Homo sapiens: one gene and its partners. The protein of the gene in region 2 interacts with the protein of the main gene of each other region in a pairwise test. Each region holds a gene or a part of one and is shown on either strand. Other genes may lie near its edges.

The links.
Region 1: the proteins of TMEM51 (region 2) and TMIE interact in a two-hybrid assay, tested with the Homo sapiens proteins (one large-scale study listed by BioGRID).
Region 3: the proteins of TMEM51 (region 2) and CLCA4 interact in a two-hybrid assay, tested with the Homo sapiens proteins (one large-scale study listed by BioGRID).
Region 4: the proteins of TMEM51 (region 2) and TSNARE1 interact in a two-hybrid assay, tested with the Homo sapiens proteins (one large-scale study listed by BioGRID).

The regions. Positions count from the first base shown.
Region 1 is NC_000003.12:46,707,707-46,711,951, forward strand, and holds the end of TMIE (transmembrane inner ear expressed protein isoform 1 precursor), read left to right. Parts: intron 1-1,419; coding exon 1,420-1,569; intron 1,570-1,872; coding exon 1,873-1,982; 3' UTR 1,983-3,180; downstream 3,181-4,245. UniProt on the Homo sapiens protein: Auxiliary subunit of the mechanotransducer (MET) non-specific cation channel complex located at the tips of stereocilia of cochlear hair cells and that mediates sensory transduction in the auditory system.
Region 2 is NC_000001.11:15,159,907-15,164,153, forward strand, and holds part of TMEM51 (transmembrane protein 51), read left to right. Parts: intron 1-4,247.
Region 3 is NC_000001.11:86,553,121-86,557,367, forward strand, and holds part of CLCA4 (calcium-activated chloride channel regulator 4 precursor), read left to right. Parts: intron 1-4,247. UniProt on the Homo sapiens protein: May be involved in mediating calcium-activated chloride conductance.
Region 4 is NC_000008.11:142,214,521-142,218,568, reverse strand, and holds part of TSNARE1 (t-SNARE domain-containing protein 1), read left to right. Parts: intron 1-4,048.

The DNA of each region.
Region 1 (4,245 bases), on a different chromosome or scaffold from region 2:
AGGCCTGAAGTGAGGGGTGGTGTTTGAGCCCGGCTCTGGCTGCCGTCAGTGGCCCACTGAGCTCCTTAGGAAGCCCCAGCCTCCCGGGGCCTGGGACCAGCCTGCATGGAGCCTGAGTGGGCATAGTCCCAAGGAGGTTCCTGGTGGGGTGGCTAGAAGAGGTGGCCTAAGCCGGGAGGGTTAGGATTGGGTACCAACTTCGAGTCTCAGGCATGAACACAGGTTCTGGAGAAATCCAGGACCCAGCTTCTTGGATAAGGCCTGCTGTCTGCTCAGGTCCACCCCTGGACAGTCGGATCTATAGCTGGGGCCCTTGTGCAGCACCCTCCTCCAAGTGTATGCCTGGATGCTATTGGCTCCCCAATTCATTCACTCTAGTCCAGTCCTGTTCCCAACAGCAAAGGCTTTGAGATCATCCCATTCATTCATTCATTGATTTTTTTCTTTTATTCTGAGCCTGGGTGAGACCTAGTAGGACCACAATATTTGTCTGAAGGGGTTCTGACTTGGTTGCATAAAATGACCCCAGAAGGTACTCCAGTCCAGGCTACATAGATCTGATCCATCTTCCCCAAAATAGACCTGGTTAATCCTCCGTGGGCCCTTCTGCCCCCAGGAGTCTGCCAGGAAGTTATGTCTGGTCATCTGATTTATAATAGGAACCAGCTCCATCCCCTCCTCTAGGGCTGGGGCCAAGGTGGTCAGGCTGTGGGGGCCTTAGGAAAATAAACTCAGTCCAGCCAGGTCCTGGCAGCCCTAACCTGCCCTACCCATCCCTAGACAGGCCAGCTCCATGACCTGGCCCAACTGGCGTGGGTGCAGCTGCCCTCAGCCGGAAAACCACTCCTGAAATAACTCCGTCTGAGGTGAATGCCTCAGGGCAGGGTCTGTGCCCTCTCATGGGCTCCCGCCCTAGCCAGGGAGAGCCCAGGGATGTCCTCAGGGAGGCTGAGGAGGACATGCAGAGCCACGTCCTCTCATGACTGAGGCAACTTTGGCCTAGCTCTCAGTGGTGTGGGAAGGAGAAGCTAAGTTGCACACCCGGAGGCCTGGGTTGGAAGTGCTGGATGGCCCCCAGGAAGCTATGGCTTAAGTCATGGTGCAGACCTCTGCCTTACCCTCCAGTGACTCTCAGTCTAGTCAGAAAGACCCTCAGGACCAGGACTGGTGACATAATTTAGCCAGGGTCCCTTCCAAGCACGGGGGCCTGTGCAGCTGCATGAAGTCAGCCCTGCTTAGGAAAGCCACCTTGGTCATCATAGGGTCCACAGGGGTTTTGTCAAGATGCTGAGCCTCCTGCCAGGGTCTGGTGGGTGAGACACATGTGGGTGGATGGGGGCGGGCCTGAAGGAAGGCGGATGCCATTCCTTGGGTCTCTGAACCCCAGCCCCAGCCAAGCCTGCTCTGTCCTCCCTACAGTCATCACGCTGTGCTGTGTCTTCAACTGTCGTGTGCCACGGACCCGGAAGGAGATCGAAGCCCGGTACCTGCAGCGAAAGGCAGCCAAGATGTACACAGACAAGCTGGAGACTGTGCCACCCCTCAATGAGCTCACAGAAGTCCCAGGAGGTGAGTTGGCCCTGGCTTGAGCCCTGCTGCGCCAGCCAGTTCCTCAGTCCTGCTGCCTGGAGTCACCCTGTTCCTCTGCTCCAACCAAAGCAGGTTCAGGGAGGGGCCCCAGCCCTGCCCCTGGAGACCAGAGCACAGAAATTGGTTGGCATGAGGCAAATAGAACGATGAGCCTATTCTCCAGTAGGAAGAAGGAAGAAAAAGGCAGAGTGTAGGAGGTTCTGGGGCTCTTCCCCTCAGGACAGTCAGACCCCAGGACCTTGTCTCACCACTATCACATGGTCTCTTCCCCCTGCCCCACAGAGGATAAGAAGAAGAAGAAGAAGAAGAAGAAGGACAGTGTGGACACAGTGGCCATCAAAGTAGAGGAGGATGAGAAGAATGAGGCCAAGAAGAAGAAAGGAGAGAAATGAAGACATCCTGGGCAGCTTGGGCTGGCGGGCCCTGGAGCTCAAGCCGTGGCCGGGGTCCAGGCATGTTGGACTCTGAGCTCATTTGGGGACCACAGAGGCTGTGGTCAGAGAGGGAAGCTGAGGCCCATGGCCACATCCTCATGGCCCATCAGGGGCAGGAACCAGACAATCTCGTAGGTGTCCTGCCCCCCAGCCTAGGCTTGGCTCCTTTCACCCCATCCACATGGGTACTGTCTCGGCAGAGGTGGTCTGGTGCCACCGTCCCTCTGCAGATACACTGCTCTCCCCACCCAGACCTGCCTGTCTCCCACCCTTTCTGCCAGGGATGGCAGTGGCTGTGAAGGAGTAATGGGATATGGGGTTACTTCAGCCACCCTTTCTGGCACGAAATGGCTGAAGTGCATGGGTCAGGGTGTGAGGCCACACCCAGAGTAGCCATGAGGAGGCAGAGAGGGTCACTGGGGGACACTGTGGCAGCAGGAGGGACTCTGTCTGGCCAGGGAGGAGCCCCAGTGGTGAGAAGACTTCCCCAAGCCTGGCAGGGGATCCAGCTCAAGGGAGTAAGTAGAGGTGGCTTCAGAAATGGAACCCCCAGCCCAGCAGACATCAAGCTCAAGGCAATGGGCTACCCTCATTTCACACGTTGTGATGAAGCTGAGGCTGCTGCCAGGCCCGGCATGAGGCCCCGAGGCTCGAGCTCGGGGCTGGGGGCTGCAGGGCTGGGTCAGGGGTACACAGAGCTAAGGCCAATGGGCTAGAGGGTGCCGGAAAGAGAGCTGGAGTCTGGGCTCCTCTTGGGAATCAGAGTATATTTAAGAAGCCAAGGGGGACCTCGGGCTGTTCTGGTGGCCCCTTCTATGCCCAGCTGTGCTGGGAGGTCCCAGGGCCCTAGAAGATCACAGCAGGGCCTTCTGCCTGCTGACCATAACAGTGCCAGCTTCTTTGCAGCTTCCTCTTCTACCATTTCCCACTACGGGCACCTAAAAGAAGCATCTCTGACCAGAAGACAAAGGCCCAAATAGCACCTGGGGGAGGGAAGATGCACAGAGGCACTTCCAGATGGCATCGAACAGACTAAGGCTCTGAAACCTAGGCCTGAACACTAAGGTCTCGAGACACCAGAGGTTTCTGAGCCAGGAGAGCCTGCTGGAAAAGCAGCCTGCAGAGATTTGTGAATAAAGCTGATTGCCTTCTCAGAGCCAGGCCTAGAAAATGGCCTCCTGAGATGACCCCTCAGGATGCGCTATTCCTGGGGCATTTATGTGGAGGGTGATGCAGCAGTCAGTGACAGATGGCTCAGGCCAGGCCAAAGTCCCCTCCCTGACTCTTCTGCCAGCCTGAATTAGGATGAGATAGAGGGAGAAATGGGAGCCAAGAGGCTGAGGGGCAGCTGCAGTCACCTGGGCCCATCCCGGAGGCAGGCACAGGACTCGGGAGGGACGCTGCCAGCTCTCTGGGTGCTGAGTTCACAAGGCTGCATTCATGATTTTCAATAGACCTGTGATGGTCTGTGCCCAGTGCTGGGGACACAGAAGAGTCAAACCTGGCTCCTGACCTGGACCTGGATCATCACTGTACAGGGAGGAGAGTGATCCAGGCTGATGAGGAAAGCGCATGACATGGGGTCTTAGGAGCAGTGAGGGGCAGAGCCATGGCCAAAGGCCCCGCCATGGAAGCTGAGGACTCTGACACCAGATGGAGGCAGTTGACCGACCTCTGCCCTTGGGGTCCAACCCATGGGCTTCTCATACATAGGGGTGAAAAAGGCCATTCTATTTATGCAGAATTTTCCCATGTGGCCAGGCAGCAGAAGTCCAGAGGGGTAGGGGCCACTCAGGGTCACACAGAGCAGCAGTTGCTGAAGACTGGGGAAGTCCAGGCCTAGGCTCCACCTGCCCTTCCCCTGACATGGGGCCACCACTAGCCTTTTATGGGCAGGCCTGGCTGCTGGTGGTTGGAATAACATCTGACTCCAGTGGGTGTCTGTCACTGTCTCCAGACAGGAGACAGAGACAGAGGGTCAAAGTTCACTATGGCTCTTTGGGGCAATGAAATGCTGTGTTCTAGCCTCTTGCCAGAAATCAGCCAAAGTCAAGGAAAGCCCGACTCCCACAGTTATCACAGAAAGAGCACCCACTTTCCAGCCCAGACAGCTGCACCCCAGCTGGGTCCTGGCAGCCCCAGCTTCAGCCTGGGCGGTATGTTCCAGGCCCCTCGATCATCTGACCCTAATATCACCCCTTCACACCCCCTCCACCTTCTG
Region 2 (4,247 bases):
CCTTTGAGATGATAAGCCCAGGGTCACCAAATCCTGGCAGAACCTGGCAGAATGAGAACTCACCACAGGGAGCAAGTTCTTTTTTTTAAGATCGTGGACTCACATGATGTGCAGTTCTGGATGTCTCCAGGAGGTTTTGCTATTTCCTCAACAGGTAAAATTAGGTGGCTCTAAATCTTGGGCAATTTTATGTCTTTTCCATGTTTTTCTCCTCACATGTGGTCTAGGGAGGGGTGTAGAGAAGCAGGTGGAATTTACTTGCCTTACCTTATCCTACCTTTTCCTGGAACCCACAGGTTGGGCCTGTGCTGGTTAGGGTGTGGGGCATGATTTGTTGATATTTGGTGAGGGAAAATGACTTTATTTTATTTTATTTATTTCTTTTGAGACAGAGTGTCACTCTGTTGCCCAGGCTGGAGTGCAGTGGTGCAATCTTGGCTCACTGCAACCTCTGCCTCCTGGATTCAAGCAATTCTCTTGCCTCAGCCTCCTGAGTAGCTGGGATTACAGGTGCATGCCACCACGCCCGGCCAATTTTTGTATTTTTAATAGAGATAGGGTTTCACCATGTTGGCCAAGCTGGTCTTGAACTCCTGACCTCAAGTGATCCACCTGCCTCAGCCTCTCAAAGTGCTAGGATTACAGGCGTGAGCCACCACACCCAGCAAGAACATGATTTTAAAAAACAAAACAAACACTCAAACTTTCTTAAGTTACCATAAGAGGCCTCACATACAGCTTCCTTAAAACTGCCTGCAATTTGGAGAGAAGCAGTTAGGTACTGGAACTGCCTGTGGGTAATTATTGTTTTCAAACAGTGACAGATGCAAATTCTCTTCTTTTGGGGGAAATTGCCTGTAGCTAAACACCGGCGCCATCACTTTAAACAAATCTCCTGATACATATGGTATGCCAGGCGCTGAGCCCAGGAACGAGGGAGAGTCAGCCCCCGCCCCCCACCCCGATGGAGCTGATCCCCCACGGGAGGCAGCAGGGATTGTACCTTAACAACATGTGAATAAAGATGAGGAAGCACAGCCCGTGAAGGAGGAGGCTTAACCCAAACTTGGAGAGTCAGGAAGGATTTTCAGAAAGAGTGCAGTCTGAGCTGAAATGGGGAGCGGGGAGGGCAGGTGCAGCCGCCACCGCCAAAGGTCTTCCTGGTGGAGGCAACTGCCTGTGCAAAGGCCTCAAGGTGTAAAAGAGCTTCGTTAACACAGGCCAATACTGAGTGTAGAAACGCTGCACTCAGGGCAGATGCTGAAGGCAGAGGTGGAAAAAGTATTTTATATAGTTTCTTCTTAAAAGTCATTTTGGGGGCTGGGCATGGTGGCTCATACCTGTAATCCCAGCACTTTGGGAGGCCAAAGCAGGTGGATTGCTTGAGGTCAGGAGTTCACGACTAGCCTGGCCAACATGGTGAAACCCCATCTCTACTAAAAATAGAAAAATTACCCGGTATGGTGGCAGGTGCCTGTAATCCCAGCTACTCAGGAGGCTGACCACAGGAATCGCTTGAACCTGGAAAGCAGAGGTTGCAGTGAGCCGAGATCGTGCCACTGAACTCCAGCCTGGGCAACAGAGTGAGACTCATCTCAAAAAAACAAAAGTCATTTTTCTCAAAAAATTAAAATCGAATAACCATAGGATCCAGCAGTTTCACTTCTGGGTGCATACTTGTCTTAGTCCATTTGTGTTGCTGTAAAGAAATACCTGAGATTGGGTAATTTATAAAGAAAAGAGATTTATTGGCCGGGCGCAGTGGCTCACGCCGGTAATCCCAGCACTTTGGGAAACCGAGGCAGGCAGATCACGAGATCGAGACCATCCTGGCCAACATGGTGAAACCCAGTCTTTACTAAAAATACAAAAATTAGCCAGGCATGGTGGCGGGCACCTGTAGTCCCAGCTACTCAGGAGGCTGAGGCAGAAGAATGGCTTGAACCCGGGAGGCGGAGGTTGCAGTGAGCCGAGATGGAGCCACTGCACTCCAGCCTAGCGACAGAGCAAGACTCCATCTCAAAAAAAGAGAGAAAGAGGTTTATTTAGCCCATGGCATCTCAGATGCATCAGCATCTGCTTCTAGTGAGGGCCTCGGGCAGAAGGACAGCAGGCGTCATGTGGTGAGAGAGAAGAGGAGAGAAGGAGTGGGGAGCAGACTCTTTAACAACCAGATCTTTGGGCACCAAGCCATTCAAGAGGGATCCACTCCCAACAACCAAACACCCACTAGGCCCCACCTCCAACATTGGGGATCAAATTTCTCTTCTTTTTTTGAGACAGTCTTACTCTGTTGCCCAGACTGGAGTGCAGTGGCACAATCTTGGCTCACTGCAAACTCTGCCTCCTGGGTTCATGCGATTCTCATGCCTCAGCTTCCCAAGTAGCTGGGATTACAGGCATGTGCCACCATGTCCAGCTAATTTTTGTATTTTTAGTAGAGATGGGGTTTCACCATGTTGGCCAAGCTGGTCTTGAACTCCTGGCCTCGAGTGATCCACATGCCTCGGCCTCCCAAATTGCTGGGATTACAGGCATGGCCACCGCATCCAGCCTGGGGATCAAATTTCAACATGAGATTTGGAGAGGACCAATATCCAAACTATATCAATGCTCAAAAGAATTGAAAACAGGTTTTTGAAGAGATATTTGTACACCCATGTTTATATGAGCATTACTCATAATAGCTAAAATATGAAAACAACCCAAGTATCCATCAAAGGATGAATGAATAAACAAAATGTGGTCTATCCATACAGTGGAATATTATTCAGCCTCCATGTGGAAGGAAATTCTGACACCATGCTGCAACATGGACGAACCTTGAGGACATCATGCTAAGTGAAATAAGCCAGTCACAAAAAGACAGATACTATATGATTCTACTTGTATGAGGAATCTAGACATCATAGAAATGGAAAGTAGAATGTTGGTTGCCAGGGGCTGGGGGAAGAGGAATGGGGAGTTAGGGTTTAATGGGTAAGGGGTTTCAGTTTTGTAAAATGAAAGCGTTCTGTGAATGCATGATGGTGATGGTTGCACAGCAGTATGAATGTACTTAATGCCACTGAACTGTTCATGGAAAAATGGTTAAGATAGTCAACTTTATGTTATGTGCATTTTATCACACTAAAAAGTTGGTGGGTGGGGGAGTCATTTTGGAAACAAGACTCAGATAGTCATTTGGCCATATCATTGCGTTCTCTCTACAGACCAGGTGTTCTTCCAGGCTTTGGGGGGAAACGGTGCCTAAGACAGGCTCAGTTCCTGCCCTCTTGGAGCTTACACCTTATTAGGCAGCAGGGAGGAGTCAGTCAAGTAGGAAACCAACAAGTAAAATAACAAATCAATAACATGTCAAATGCACTGATCTGAAATCTTTGCCCCTTCCCTATGCTGGCAGGATCAAGCCAAAGCTAAGCTCTTTAACTTTCAACACTATAAAGCCCGGACTTCTTAGAGTCAGCCTCTGTTAATCTTTTCAGACCTATTACTGCTGCCTTACCCCAACTTCAACTGCATCAGTCACAAGGAACTACTTTCCACCCCCACCTACCTCGTACCCCTGCTCAAAGCCAGGAACTTTGGCGGCTTTTTTCCTTCCTGTTCTTTCTGCTTTTCTTTCTAGACTGCCCAGAGGCTTTAGAAAACACCATAATTTCAATTCTAGAAGTTTATCCTAAGAAAACAGTTAATGAGTATAAGGAGTTAGTTTCGAGACTGTTATTTTTTGTAATAATAGCAACAAAATTAGAAAGCCATTTTGTTTTTAATCTGTCCAGAGATGGTCCTAGCCACGACCCTTTAAATAAATTTTTGTTTAATTTTGGAATAATTTTAGATTTATAGAAAAGTTGCAAAGGTAATATGGGGCATTTTTGTCTACCCTTCACCCAACTTCCCCTAATGTTGGCTTTTTTTGGGGGGGGGGAGGGGGGAGGGGACAAAGTCTCACTCTGTTACCCAGGCTGGAGTACAGTGGCGTGGTCTCGGCTCACAGCAACCTCCACCTCCTGGGGTCAAGTGATTCTCCTGCCTCAGCCTCCCGAGTAGCTGGGATTTACAGGCATGCACCACCATGCCTGGCTAATTTTTGTATTTTTAGTAGAGACAGGGTTTCACCATGTTGGCCAGGCTGGTCTTGAACTCCTGACCTCAGGTGATCCGCCCACCTCGGCCTCCCAAAGTGCTGGGATTACAGGCGTGAGCCACCATGCCCGGCCTAATGTTGGCATCTTACATAATCG
Region 3 (4,247 bases), about 71 Mb from region 2:
GCGTCATCTCCTCTTGGATCTGCCGGACCACGTGGCAATGAGGATTGAGCGGCACAGGTTGGGCTCCACAAGCATGTGGCAAAGCTGCAGCTTCACCAGGGACATGTCCAAGAGGGACTGCCGCTGCAAGCTGTACGAGGACACGGTCTTCAAGCCGGCCAGGGCTCCCTCCACGTCTTCCTGGTGGCCAACACGTTTCCCCTTCAGTCCTCGTGCAAACATTGTGTCTTTGAGAGAACGGTTATCTGGGTCCTGCCGTCTCGTGCATCCCACACGAAGGCCACAGAAGAGGCGAGGCAGCAGAGATCCTCTATTCCAGCAAGCTGTCGAAGCCTTTGTCACGACGATCCTGTCCGACCCGCGAGTCTGCCCGCTGGGTCCTCTGCTCAGCCGACGCCACCGCCGCTGCCGCCTGCTTCCCGCCGCTCAGGGAGGAGCGCCCGCCAGCGCGGGGCCTTTACCCTTTTAAAACAATCAACTCTGCTTAGGAAACTAGCCATAGTTTTACTTCCCATAAAAAGCTTATGTGTCGGCCCGGGCATGGTGACTCACGTCTGTAATCCCAGCACTTTGGGAGGCTGAGGCGGGTGGATCACCTGAGGTCAGGAGTTCGAGACCAGCCTGGCCAACATTGCGAAACCCTCTCTCTACTAAAAAATACAAAAATTAGCTGGGCCCAGTGGCAGGCGCCTGTAATTCCAGCTACTCGAGAGGTCGAGGCAGGAGAATCGCTTGAACCCGGGAGGCGGAGGTTGCAGTAAGCCAAGATTGAGACATTGAACTCCAGCCTGGGAGACAGAGCAAGACTCTGTCCAAAAAAAAAAGTTTGTGTGTCAATGTATGACCCATAGTGTCTTCTTTTCTTTTCTTTTTTAACTTTTATTTTGGGTTCAGGGGTACATGTGAAGGTTTGTTGCATAGGTAAACTCATGCCATGGGGGTTTGTTGTACAGATTACTTCATCACCAGGTATTAAGCCTAGTACCCAATATTATCTTTCTGTTCCTCTCCTTCCTCCCAACCTCCACCCCCACTCTCAAGTAGACCCCAGTGTCTCTTGTTCTCTTCTTTGTGTTCATGAGTTCTCATCATTTACCTCCCATTATAAGTGAGAACATGTAGTATTTGGGTTTCTATTCCTGTGTTAGTTTGCTAAGGATAATAGCCTACAGCTCCACCCATGTTCCCGCAAAAGACATGATCTCATTCTTTTTTATGGCTGTGTAGTATTCCATGGTGTATATGTACCACAGTTTTTGTTTGTTTGTTTGTTTTGAGACAGAGTCTCCCTCTGTCACCATGCCCAGCTAATTTTTGTATTTTTAGTAGAGATGGGGTTTCACCATGTTGCACAGGCTGGTCTCGAACTCCTGACCCGAAGTGATCTGCCCACCGCGGCCTCCCAAGGTGCTGGGATTACAGGTGTGAGCCACCATGCCCGGCCCTGTACCACAATTTTTAATCCAATCTGTTATTGATGGGCATTTAGGTTGATTCCATGTCTTTGCTATTGTGAATAGTGCTGCTACAAACATTCAAGTGCATGTGTGTCTTTCTGGTGGAATGATTTATATTCCTCTGAGTGTATATCCAGTAATGGGATTGCTGGGTTGAATGGTAGTTCTGCTTTTAGCTCTTTGAGGAATCACCATATTGCTTTCCACAGTGGTTGAACTAATTTACACTCCCATCAACAATGTATAAGTGTTCCCTTTTCTCCTCAACCTCGCAAGCATCTGGTTTTTTTTTTTTTTACTTTTTAATAATAGCCATTCTAACTGGTATGAGATGATATCTCATGGTGGGTTTTTTTGTGTGTGTGTTTCTTTAATGATCAGTGATACTGAGCTTTTTTTCACTTGCTTGTTGGCCACATGTCTATCTTCTTTTGAAATGCATCTGTTCATGTCCTTTGCCCACTTTTTAATGCATTGTTTGTTTTTCTCTTGTAAATTTGTTTACATTCCTTTTAAATGCTGGATATTAGACCGGTGTTGGACGCATAATTTGCAAATATTTTCTTCTATTCTGTAGGTTGTCTGTTTACTCTGTTGATAGTTCCTTTTGCTGTGCACAAGCTCTTAAGTTTAATTAGATTCCACTTGTCAATTTTTGCTTTTGTTGCAATTGTTTTAGGCATCTTTGTTATAAAATCTTTGCCTATGTCCAGGATGTATTGCCTAGGCTGTCTTCTAGGGTTTTTATAGTTTTCAGTTTTACATTTAAGTCTTTAATCTTAATCTTGAGTTGATTTTTATACATGGTGTAAGGAAGGGATCCAGCTTCAATCTGCATATGGTTAGCCAGTTATCCCAGCACCATTGATTTAATAGGGAATCTTTTCCCCATTGCTTGTTTTTGTCAGCTTTGTTGAAGATTAGATGGTGGTGGATGTGCAGCCTTATTTCTGGGCTCTCTGTTGTGTTCTGTTGGTCTAGGCCTGTTTTTATACCAGTACCATGCTCTTTGGGTTACTGCATCCCTGTAGTGTAGTTTGAAATCAGGTAACATGATGCCTCCAGTTTTGTTCTTTTTGCTTAAGATTGCCTTGGCTGTTCAGGCTCTTTTTTATTCCATATGAATTTTAAAATAGTTTTTTTCTAGTGGTGTGAAAAATGTTGTTGCTAGTTTGATAGGAATAGCAATGAATCTATAAATTGCTTTGGGCAATATAACCATTTTAGTGATATTGATTCTTCCTATCGATGAGCATGGGATGTTTTCCATTAGTTTGTGTCTTCTCTGACACAATTTCTTTGAGCAGTGTTTTGTAATTCTCATTGTAGGAATGTTTCACCTCCCTGGTTAGCTGTATTCCTAGGTATTTTATTCTTTTTGTGGCAATTGTGAATGGTATTGCCTATTCGATTCAGCTCTGGACTTAGCTGTCATTGGTGTAGAGGAAGGCTAGTGATTTTTGTACATTGATTTTGTATGCTGAAACTTTGCTGAAGCTATTCATCAGCTGAGGGAGCTTTTGGGCTGAGACTATGGGGTTTTCTAGATATAGAATTATGTCATAATCAAAGAGGGATAGTTTGACTCCCTCTCTTCCTATTTGGATGCCCTTTATTTATTTCTCTTGCCTGATTGCTCTGGCCAGGACTTCCAATATTAAGTTGAATAGGAGTGGTGAGAGACAGCATCCTTGTCTTGTGCCAGTTTTCAAAGAGAATGCTTCCAGCTTTTGCCCATTCAGTATAATGTTGGCTATGGGTTTGTCATAGATGGCTCTCATTATTTTGAGGTATTTTCCTTCAATACCTACGTTATTGTGGTGTTGAATTATATTGAAAACCTTTTCTCCATCTCCTGAGATAATCATGTGGTTTTTGTCTTTAGTCCTGTTTATGTGATGAATCACTTTTATTGATTTGTGTATGTTGAATCAATCTTGCGTCCTGGAGATGATGCTTACTTGATCATGGTGGATTTGCTTTTTGGTGAGCTGCTGGATTCGGTTTGCCAGTATTTTGTTGAGAATTTTTGCATCAATGTTCATAAAGGATATTGGCCTGAAGTTTTCTTTTTTTGTTGGGTCTCTGTCAGGTTTTCATATCAGATTGATACTGGCCTCATAGAATGAGTTGGAGAGGATCCCTCCCTCCTCAAATTTTTGGAATAGTTTCAGTAGGAATGGTACAAGCTCTTCTTTGTACATCTGGTAGAATTTGGCTGTGAATCCATAAGATCCTGGGCTTTGTTTGTTTGTTTGTTGTTTGTAGGCTCTTTATTACTAATTCAGTTTAGGAACTTGTTATTGGTCTGTTCAGGGAATCAATTTCTTCCTGATTCAGTCTTGGGAGATGTATGGGTCCAGGAATTTATCCATCTCTTCTAGGTTTTCTAGTTTGTGTCTTTAGAGGTGTTCATAGTAGTTTCTGATGGTTATTTTTATTTCTGAGGGGTCAGCATTAACATTCCCTTCATTATTTCCAATCCTGTTTATTTGGACCTTCTCTCTTTTCTTATTTATTAGTCTAGCTGGTAGCTAGTGGCATATATAGCTTATAAATTTTTTCAAAAATTAGATCCTGGATTTGTTGATCTTTTGAGTGGTTTTTTGTGTCTCATTTTCTCATTTTCCTTCAGTTCAGCTCTGATTTTGATTATTTCTGGTCTTCTGCTAGCTTTGGGGTTGATTTGTTCTTGCTCCTCTAATTCCTTCAGTTGTAATGTTAGGTTGTTAATTTCGGATCTTTCTAACTTTTTGATGTGGGTATTTAATGCTATAAATTTCCCTCTTA
Region 4 (4,048 bases), on a different chromosome or scaffold from region 2:
TTCATCGAGGGGTGGCCCATGCTATTTGGCAGAGTGGTGAGTGGGATGAGAGGGGGACATGTCTGAGGGACATTGGCAGTGAGCTGAGGGATGGGCACTGTTCCCAACCAGACCAGGCTCTGAGTGGTCTGTGCTCCAAGAAGGCCTAGAAACCCACACAGTGAAGCTCCAGGGAGCCCACAAAGTGGTCTGGCCCTCGTGGTGCCTCAACAGGCAGCTCTCCAGGGTGGACACTGGATATGACCTGGTCACACGCTGAGCCCTGACCCTGGCCACACCCTGAGCCCTGACCCTGGCCACACCCTGAGCCTGATCCCGGTCACACTGAACCCAGATCTTGGTCACACGTTAAGCCCTGACTCTGGTCACACTCTGAGTCCTGATCCTGGTCACACTGAGGCCTGACCCTGGCCACACACTGAGCCTGATCCTGGTCACACGGAGCCCTGATCCTGGTCACACACTGAGCCCTGACCTGGCCACTCTCTGAACCCTGATCCTGCTCACACTCTGAGCCCTGATCCTGGTCACATACTGGGCCCTGATCCTGGCCACACACTGAGCCCTGATCCTGCTCATACTCTGAGCCCTGATCCTGGTCACACACTGAGCCCTGATCCTGCTCATACTCTGAGCCCTGATCCTGTTCACACTCTGAGCCCTGATCCTGGTCACACACTGAGCCCTGATCCTGGCCACACACTGAGCCCTGATCCTGCTCACACACTGAGCCCTGATCCTGCTCACACCCTGAACGCTGATCCTGGCCACACCCTGAACGCTGATCCTGGTCACAAACTAAGCTCTGATCCTGGTCACACACTGACCCTAATTCTAGTTACATTTTGAGCCCTGACCTTGGTCACAGGCTGAACCTAAACCTGGCTATGGACTAGCCCTGACCCTTCATTGATGAGGCCAGAAAGCATGGTGCATGCACACTGTTTCCCTGGAGCAAAAAGTTGATGCTGACGTAGCTGAAGTGAGTAGGTCAGAGTCACCTTTTAGGTGATAAACCCAGTTCAAGGGCTCACCCCTGCCCATGACCACCTGCCCCTGCCTGCCTGCTGGCTCTCGCCTCTGGCCAGCATTCAAGATCTCAGCACCATGGACAGCAGCAGAGGGGCCCAAGCCTCTTGTGGGGTCAGCCATTCCTTACGCCGTTGCTTGCTTGCTTTTTCTTTCTTTCCCTTTTTTCTTTCTTTCTTTCTTTCTTTCTTTCTTTCTTTCTTTCTTTCTTTCTTTCTTTCTTTCTTTCTTTCTTTTTCTTTCTTTCTTTCTTCTTTTTATTTTATTATTTTATTTTATTTTATTATTTTATTTTTGAGACAGAGTCTTGCTCTGTTGCCCAGGTTGGAGTGCAGTGGCCCTATCTCGGCTCACTGCAACCTCCACCTCCCAGGGTTCAAGTGATTCTCTTGCCTCAGCCTCCTGAGTAGCTGGGATTACAGGCATGTGCCACCATGCCTTGCTAATTTTTTGTATTTTTAGTAGAGTCAAGGTTTCACTGTGTTAGCCAGGATAGTCTTGATCTCCTGACCTCGTGATCTGCCTGCCTCGGCCTCCCAAAGTGCTGGGATTACAGGTGTGAGCCACCGCGCCCGGTCCTTAGGCAGTTTCTCCACGACTGTTCACCTACCGTCTCCTCTCCCTGTTTCATCTCCCCTCTGATGGGGGCTGAAACCCCGGTTCCCCTGCTGTCTGGTGTCCAGCCCAGTGTGGGGCCCAGGGATGTCCGAGGCAGATTTGTCGACTGAGAGGAGGATAAACAACCAGGCAGGGTCGGTGCCAAGTATCTGCCCATTTTACAGATATGAGGACAGCTCAGAGGGGTTGATCCTTGCCAAGGACTTTGGGCCGGCCTGAGTCTGTGCCTCTGCTCGTCCCCCACCCCAGGCTTTGCTCCTCTCAGGCAGGAGGGAGAGGATGGAGTGAGGCAGAGCCCTGTGCCCCGTGCCCAGGCTGCTGACCAGTGCGGGGAGGGGTGGGGTGGGACAGGGGGTGCTATGCTGCTGTGCCAGGCCGGGAGGCCGACACCCTCCAGCCTCATCTCCCTGAGAGCCAATTTCCATAACCCTGCAGTAGCATCTTCCTGGAGACCCCTCTTGGGCCCCCGAGCGTGTGGCCAGAGGACGCCAGAGCCCAGGCAGCTCCTCAAGTCCCAGTGATTATACCTGTGCTACTCAGCTGATCAGGGAGAGCCCAGGCCTCATCCTTCCCAGCCCCACACCCCCAGCCCCTGCCTCTCTGCACTGCACCAGCGTCCGCCCATCTGTTCCAATCCAAAGATCTCCCCAGCAGCATTCATTTCAGTGCCATATGGCTGAGGCTCAGCCCTCAGAGGAGGGGCGGGGGCACCATGGCAGAGGTGGGAGCTTCTTCTACACCGGGCCCTGGGGGTGAAGAGACCCAGCTAGGGGTCTGGAGGAGCTGGGGCTGAGGGGCGGCAGGGAGTGGGGAAGGCTCATGGCTTGGGCCTAGAGGATGCCATGGGAACCTTTCCCCCTCAGATCTGCCCCATCACAGGGCCACTCAGCCGGCAGATGCCACATGCCATCTGCTGAGGCAGGCAGAGGCTGGGCTGAATTTGCACAGGGCCCGAGGGCCATCCATCCCTGTATCCCCAGCCAGGCCTCACCCCGAATTCCATGGCACCACAAAGCCAGCCTGGGGTGCAGGCGGAGGGTTGGCCCATTGACCTTCAAGCCTCCAGAGCTCAGGGGAATGTGGCCTGCACTAGATGCTGAAGGGCGTGTCCAGGCCCAGCTGGGTGGGGCTGAGCTGGCAGCCTCAGCAAAGGTGCCCACATGGGGCTGCCACTGCCAGCTGGCCTCTCACAGGTGTGTACTGGGTGGGGCAGGGACTTCCCTCCCAGGCTGCTGCCCCCTTGGCCTGCCCTTCCCCTCTCTCGGCTCAGTCTGCCCTCCAGGTGTGAGGGCAGGGAGGACTCCCTGGTAGGTCACGGGGGACAGCTCTCCTGGGGGTTCTCAGGTTCGAGGCTGGGCCCTGCTGCCCTGGCTTGGACAGAGTGTGTGTGGGGAGGCTGAGGGGTGGTGGTGGACAAGGGCAATGGATGAGACCCAGTTCCCAATCTTGGGGGACACATGTGGGGATGGGAGGGGCAGTTCTGGCCAGAAGATGGGGGCATCAGGCACTGCAAGGCTGCTCCCTGACCACCATTGCTGCCACCTCGCATTAGACCCTGTCCACTGACACCAGGACACTGCGTTGTGTTGAGGGGCACGCTGAGCACCACCATCCTTGGGGCGCCCCCACCCTCATCCCCAGGCAGCTAGGAAGTGGGGGGTGCCTCCGAACACAGCTGGATCCTGGTCTGGCAGTCACTCTGCCAGAGCAGTGCAGTGCCTGGGAGTTGGAAACAGCCGTGCACATCACAGATTTGTTCACTCGATCAATACGCATTCATGGTGTCCGTGCGGGCCCTGGCCTGGGCCCGGGGACACCTCTGTGGACACCTCCATGGACAGGACAGGTCTCTGCCTGCAGGTGCAACTGTCTGGCTAGGAGCATGGACAGAGTGTGATGAGGCCAGAGGTGAAGCCCCTGAGGTGGGAAGCGCTGGGGGAGGGAGCCCTTGTCGGTGAGGGGTCCTTATCAGCTCAGCTGCTGTAACCAAGCACCACAGGCGGCTTCTACCACAGAAGAAACTGCTCTTTGCCCTGGAGGCTGGAAGTCCCAGATCAGGGTGCCGCCAGGGCTGGGTTCTGATAGGGCCCTTCTGGGCTGCTGAGGGTGACCTCTCCTACATCCTCACGTGGCGGAGGGAGGGCGGGAGCTCTTGGGGCCTGGATCCCACCAGGAGGCTGCACCCTCAGGACCACGGCACTTCCCAGAGGCCCCACCCTTCACAGCATCACCCTGGGGGTTATTTTCGCCTTTGAGTTTTGGAGGAACACAAGCACTCAGACCGTAGCAGGGGCTGGAATGAGGCTGGTTGTGATTTTAAACAGGCCTCACCGAGAGTGGGGTGCAGGGAAAATCATTCCAGCAGAGGGAACAGCCCAGGCCCAGCGCAAGGTAGACCTTG